2 linked regions of the Homo sapiens genome follow. The protein of the gene in region 2 purifies or fractionates together with the protein of the main gene of each other region. This does not show direct contact. Each region holds a gene or a part of one and is shown on either strand. Other genes may lie near its edges.

Region 1 (2,990 bases), on a different chromosome or scaffold from region 2:
CTCCTGGGAAAAGGGATTAGGATAAGAAGCAAAGCACAGTAAGTGTGTTTTTAGCCCATTGGCTGGATATCAGATGGTCGGCCTCGATGTCTCAAAGTCTGGCCAAATGACCCAGGAATCAACCTGTCTGTGAGTGTTGGGTTGTATCCATAAACTGGACTGCTATTGATCATCATCTCTTAAATGAGCCATCATTATCAGGTAGAGGTGACAAGTGGGTGAGGTTAGAGGTAGCCCTTGAAAATCATATAGTAGTGTTAGGAAGACAAAACAAACACACAATGAGACAGTGACAAACACACAGTGAGACAGTGAGCCAAACTAAAAGACAATGGGAAGGGAACGCTAAATTGCGGTCTGGGTTCTCAGAACATTTTCCCAATGGGTCTAAAGTCCACGAGGGAAAGCTGCATGGAGGTGATGAGACTTGAGCCAGGACTTGAAGGATGGGCAAGATTTGAATAGGTTGAGGAGAGAAGAGGGGGCTCCAGGCAGGTGGGGTGACAGCACCAAGGGAAGCACCAGCCAACTGCACTTGGGACTGAAAGCAGGAGAGCCTAAGGTGCTGCTGTTTTAAAGTAAGAACTTTCCCACAGTTGTCTGAAGTCCCATCCTTCCTACTAAGAGAGAAGCAGGCCTAAGGTTGGGGTGGGGGATTTCCTTAGTAAAAGAAACTAATTTCCCTAATTAGGCTCCATACAAAGTCATTTCTCTTGCATCTCACCTCCAGTATTTGTCCTCTACAAAGAAATATGTTTTGTTCTTTTCCTTATCAGAAATGGCTGCATCGATTTTCCTCACGGTTGGAGGGAAACCTAGGGTGTGGATGCCTCTTGGGTATCCAGCTCGTACCTCATTTCCTCTGATAGCCCAGAATTGATTTCCTGTTAAATATAAATAATTCAGAGTCATATTGAATTATAACAGTTAAGCCCTTTCGCTTTAGAAATACACTTTAGCATCTTTGATTTTCATGGTAAAGTAGTAGCCCAAATTTTAGATTTAGTCACCAGCTTACAGTGGGCTTTTCACAAAAATTTGCAGACTGAATGAATGAACTAAGGTCAAATGAGAGAATTTACAACTCTGGGTAATTTATCTTCTTGTCTTTATTTTTATCATCTATGAAATATAAATACAATGATATCAGCCCTGGTTATTTCTTCATTACCGTTGACTACTGTATTAGCCAGAACTTGTAGTAGGGAAAATTAAAGTGTTGTTCAATTTCTTATGAGAGGGTTTACTTTGGCAAGTTAAACAAATGATGATATAGTAATTACCTTTAAAAATGAAAACGAGGTCCTTGCTAGTAACTTCATATGCGGCATCCACGCCTGAAGGAAGAGATGGCCAAAATGAAGAGATCAAATGCAATTCAGGTTCAAGCTTCCTGAGGGATTTGCGCCAAAAGTGCCTAAAATATATGTAAAAAGAAATGTAAATTGAAAAACAATCTTTCACCTTTAGAATATTTTCCTCACCGTCTTGCCTCACCCAGCTTCCCCCATTCTCTCATCTTCTAGGCTGGATGACAGATAGAAATCAGGTATATTGCCATTAGAAAATTTCTTTCCTTTTTCTTCAGAAGACTGTAGTGAGTCTCCCGTCATAGGTTTCCAGAGTAATGTCTTCTATGAAAGAAAAATTATTCTATCGTGCAAATGAATTAGCCCAGCATAAGCTTTAATTACCTGCAATGTATGCAAAACAGTGCGTGTGCTATACCCTCTTCCAAAAGCTAGGCCGTGTTTGTATACGTGTATGTGCTGTGTAAATATATTCTTGTATGTGTGTAGAAAGATTCTGGAAGGATGCACAAAAAGTCTTGACTCTGGATGAGTACAGGGAGAACTGGGAACTAAAATTTTTAATTTGCTTCTCATTTGTGCTCTTTGAATGTTTGTCATGTGCATATTGATCCATCAGTAAGTAAATTACTTGATTAAATGTAATGTTGATCCTGATGTCATTTTTAAAGGAAGTAAAAATAAAATTATTATTCGAAAGATCTACTCATGCCTTTTGAAAAGTAACTGTGACTTAAGACATTTGGAAACAGCAATTAGAAGCTAAGAACCAGATCAGCCTGTGCCTTCAAAAATGAACCTGACAATTTTAGGAAAATGTGGGAAAAGGCAGCACCAGATCTAAATGATTCCAAGCTCAGAAGAAACGTTTTTGTTTTAAATGTCTAAGAATCTCTATCAAGTTTCTGCGTGTTTTCCTTTCTAAACATTGTAGATTAAAATGGTAGGAAAATATAATTTTTCAGCCTGACCTGTCTTTAAAGATCAGGATTTCTCCCCTCAGAGTGCTGACAGCATCAAAGGACAAAGCAGGATCACAGTTGGCTGGCGTCCCAGGTTCTGGAGGGACAGGTTCCGTGGGTACCAGGGGGGTCTCAGGGGAGTCAGGGGGAGGTCCTAAAGGGAACATTAGGGGAAATGTGATACGTTTCAATATATGCCCATTTGTATGCTTTCCAAACATTCTCACGGTGCTTTGAACTAAATCATAAATACTTTATGTAGCATTTGAAAGCTCTTCTGAAGACCATCATTGCAAAACTACAATGGCTGATTTTCCCAGTGTCACTCACCATAGAGGGACTGAATGCCATTTATATCATCTTGAGACAGGCGGAACCGAGTCAGGTCTGTGAGTGAGTGATAGAGTGGGTACATCAAAGCTTCAGTGTTGGCTGAGTGAAAGAGACCCAGGGAGTGGCCAATTTCATGAGCAGCAACGAGAAATAAATTGGTCCCTATTTAAGAAATTGAGAACAATAGTTACTTATTTTTTAAATACATGTGCATTACACAGGTCTGCTGTGCATTGTATTGGTTTTTACTTCTTGGAACCACACAGGGCTTTTTACACCTTGTTTGTTGGTTAATTGAACAATTGACTAATTACACACTTAATGGAAAGCTAAGTGTATTTTAAAACTCATACCTGTAATCAATCTTTGAGATTGATTTCCCAGT
Region 2 (3,836 bases):
TCCTCTCTATAAAATAAGCTGAAAGTAATGAACAAACATTGTGGGTCTAAAATAGAACTTGTAGGAATATTATTTGTAGTATTAAAAAAAAACCATTTGTATCAATGCATGGGTCAACAATTCAGCAGACGAATAGGAAAGGCTTCCACAGCAAGACTGCACTTCCACACTGAATGTAGGGCCCCACATCCAAGACTCATCATATCTGGCTTCTGATTAATCTTTAACATATCAGGACTACTCAGGGGAGGATTTAAAACTTCAAGCAAGGAGCTTCATGGACCCTACTGAGCTTAGAATTTGGAGCTCATCATTATTGTTCAAATGTGTTTAAATCTGACCTGTCATAATTTGCAAGTTTATTGACAAAATTTAGTGATCCAAGAGCCAGAAGAAAGATCTTGTGATCTCTTATCTATATTCTATTTTCAACTCTCATAAGCAGATGTTGGGAACATAATAAAATGACATTTACAAGAAGGTACTGGCCTTTGTGGTCTTTGTTTTTGATCAGTAGCTAAATAGCCTAGGGCAATACTTTCTTATGAGGGGGGAACAAAAAAACACCAACATATTGAAGTCCTTAATTTGAGATTCAAATCAAATAAACTCTTAAAAAAAGATTAGTAAGGATAGTTTCACCTAAATCTTTACTGGGCTAAGAGTTCTACTTAGTTTTTCATTGTTTTATATAGCTCAGTCTCATTGCTGTCAATGCAAAAGTTTAAGATTAGGATGGATGGTTCAAAGTGGAAAAGTCATTAAGTTAAATTAGAATTAACAGAAATAAAAATGATGATTTAGGGTTATTAAAGACCCATATTCACTTGAAGCATGCTTTTTGTAATGTCTTTCTATGTAAAAAAGCATTTGTTAAAAGTGACATTTATGTAAATAAATATTAAAATAATAATTCAAATATGGATTATCTATAAGATTGGTTTTGTTGATACTACTAATAAAATTAGATGATTTATAAGCCAAGGTATCACAGTGTGCCTCACGCCCAAGGAGAACAATGAGGAAACCCCATGAAATTGAAGATATACCTGAATTAATCTACGTATAATACGTGCTTTTAGTCTTGAATGAGAATATGAGAGCTATTTCTTACATGCTAAGTAACTCTAACATCATCAATCAAGTCTTATCAAGTAGAATTCCACTTATAATTGTAACTTGGTGTCCTATGAAACTAAATTGGGAAAGGAAGGATCACCTGCTAGGAGCAACCTCAAAAGAGTCCCAAAAATGTCAGCAGAAGCCAGTAGACTTCTGTTAGCACTCTCTGGGGATGATGACACCCTAGGCACAAACATATCAGTACTTCTGGCACATATTTCCAATGTTGAGAAAGACATACTTCTACTTAGGTGGATGCCAGTAAAACTTTCCAATCTCTCTACCACTGACTCAATTTATTCAATCATCTACACTCACCAGATAAAATTAGGATTAAAATTTACTTCCTCTGTAGTTCTTCCTATCAGTTTGAATATTACAATCTGCATCCTTCATTATAAGTCAATAAATCAGCAAAATGATTTATACATCATTTCCATGTGGAATTTTATAATATGAGATAGATTCACTCTCCCTTGTACTGGCAACAGGAATTCACTAAACTTGCAAAGCCAAGGCCCTACCTATACCATGTTAAATTCACCAAGATCAAGACCATGTTGAAAGGACCCCTGACACACTCCTCTCCTAGCGATAACTCCGCTTCTATATACATCTATAAAAGTTTAGCAGGTAGACATATGACAGCTTCACTAAGGATACACAGTACTTGGCACCTAGTGTGTACTATGTATTTAGTGACTGAATTAATTAAGAGCATTGTAGTGCACTTTCCCAGATTTGTAATTGTAAAAGGCAAGTGGAAGTTTTGGGGAAATATTTGCTCAGACAGATTATGATTCATAAGCAGGTATCCACAAAACCAAAACATATAAAAGGTAGGAAAATTCTGGAAATAACTGCAGTAAGCACAATCAGATATGAACTGAAGAAAGGTTATTTATAGATTTAATGTATACTCTTTAATAAGAATATTTAAATTGTTGCTTAAAAATGTATTAATATGTTTTTGTTTTTGTTTTTTGTTTTTTGAGACAGAGTTTTGCTCTTATTGCCCAGGCTGGAGTACAATGGCGCAATCTCAGCTCACTGCAACCTCCGTCTCCCTGGTTCAAGTCATTCTTCTGCCTCAGCCTCCCGAGTAGCTGGGATTACAGATGCCCAACACCATGCCTGATGCATTTTTGTATTTTTAGTAGAGACGGGGTTTCACCATGTTGGCCAGGCTGGTCTCAAACTCCTGACTCAGGTAATCTGCCCACCTTGGCCTCACAAGTGCTGGGGTTACAGGCGTGAACCACTGCACCTGGCTTAATAGTTTAATTATAGGGTAAGCTCCTTCTAGGGACACTGCATAATATGCTACACTACCTTTCTAAAATATATATTTTTTAAATCTAAATTTTTAAATGTATGCAGTCCCTAGGGTTTCAGATAAAAGACAGTGAACCTGAACTCCTTACTTTCTGTTACATAAGCTAAGGAAATTTATCAATGTCTTATTTAGGCAAAGTTTGTAAAAATCCCAAAATATTTTAACAATATGGGACACTTAATTGGGAGGAACAACAATGTAGAAGAGAGAGCAAAGGCATTGAATCAGAGATTATATCAAATCCTAGCTTCAATGTCAACTAAATATGTGAAACTTGTCAAATTGCCTCTCTGATCCTGTTTTTTTCATCTGGTAAAGAGATTTTTGGTGGCTTAAATGAGATAATATAGGAGATAAAATATGAGATTAAAAAATAATTCTAATGACAGATTGTAGCACATTTATTGTTGTTAAAATAATATTGATCACTAAAGCTATTGTACAGCATGCTAACATTTCTGACTTCTTTCATAGTAGCAACAAAGGAAAGGTTGGCTTTGATATCTGAGGGTTCATAGCTTTAGTATTTCAAACCTTAAAAATTCTGATATAGAAAAAACAAATGCACATTGAATCATATTCCAAACCAGTGAGATTATTAATTTATTTTATAAGTTAAATGAATAATTTGAATTATCACATTGGATAAGCAATGGTTTTAATCATTTACTAATAAGTATGCATCCCTTATTTCAAACTAAACAACTGTAGGTGTCTTTACCTGAAAAGAGTAGGTATGACCATCTGAACCACAAACAGGGCTGGGATAGACCACTGGGCACTGCTTGCAGGTGGATAATATGGGACCCCTCCACTGCCTATGGTCTACTCCTGCTTCTTTCATCCTGTTAAAAAAATAAAGCAAGCATATTGAGCATATTTATTTTAAAATATACATTTATATTAGCTCATTCCTCTCCTAAACTGCCATTCCAACTCCTGAAGATACATTAGAATCAACAAACTATTCTCATTTTTAATTTATTATTTCATGCCATATTTTTCATTATAATCTTTTGATTTATATCTTAAGGCTTGCCTCTGATAAAAAAGAATATGTTCCTTAAATATATTCTGCTAGTCACATATAAATGATAGCTGTATTTCTTCATGTGAACCCTTTTGATAGACTCAGAAACAGAAGCAACACTTGCTCAGCAATAAAGAACTCACACATCTGGCACCTTCTTAAAAGCCATCCTCATGTTCCATTAGGAACAATATAAAAAAGATGACATCTAATCCACTGGGTGCCTAAAAGTAAGAGTGGCTTACTTTTAGAGAAAACAGAAATAAAGAATTACAATTTTCCAGGATTTATCAGTATTTAGAAAGCCAAATTGCTAGGTTTAGTGATAACAAATCTCCTTTTGTTGTG

The links.
Region 1: the proteins of SPOCK3 (region 2) and MMP3 purify together in Homo sapiens (affinity purification with western blotting, with the first as the bait; one study listed by BioGRID). This does not show direct contact.

The regions. Positions count from the first base shown.
Region 1 is NC_000011.10:102,837,827-102,840,816, forward strand, and holds part of MMP3 (stromelysin-1 preproprotein), read right to left. Parts: intron 2,768-2,990; coding exon 2,603-2,767; intron 2,427-2,602; coding exon 2,282-2,426; intron 1,418-2,281; coding exon 1,284-1,417; intron 885-1,283; coding exon 725-884; intron 1-724. UniProt on the Homo sapiens protein: Metalloproteinase with a rather broad substrate specificity that can degrade fibronectin, laminin, gelatins of type I, III, IV, and V; collagens III, IV, X, and IX, and cartilage proteoglycans.
Region 2 is NC_000004.12:166,909,441-166,913,276, forward strand, and holds part of SPOCK3 (testican-3 isoform 1 precursor), read right to left. Parts: intron 3,304-3,836; coding exon 3,180-3,303; intron 1-3,179. UniProt on the Homo sapiens protein: May participate in diverse steps of neurogenesis. Inhibits the processing of pro-matrix metalloproteinase 2 (MMP-2) by MT1-MMP and MT3-MMP. May interfere with tumor invasion.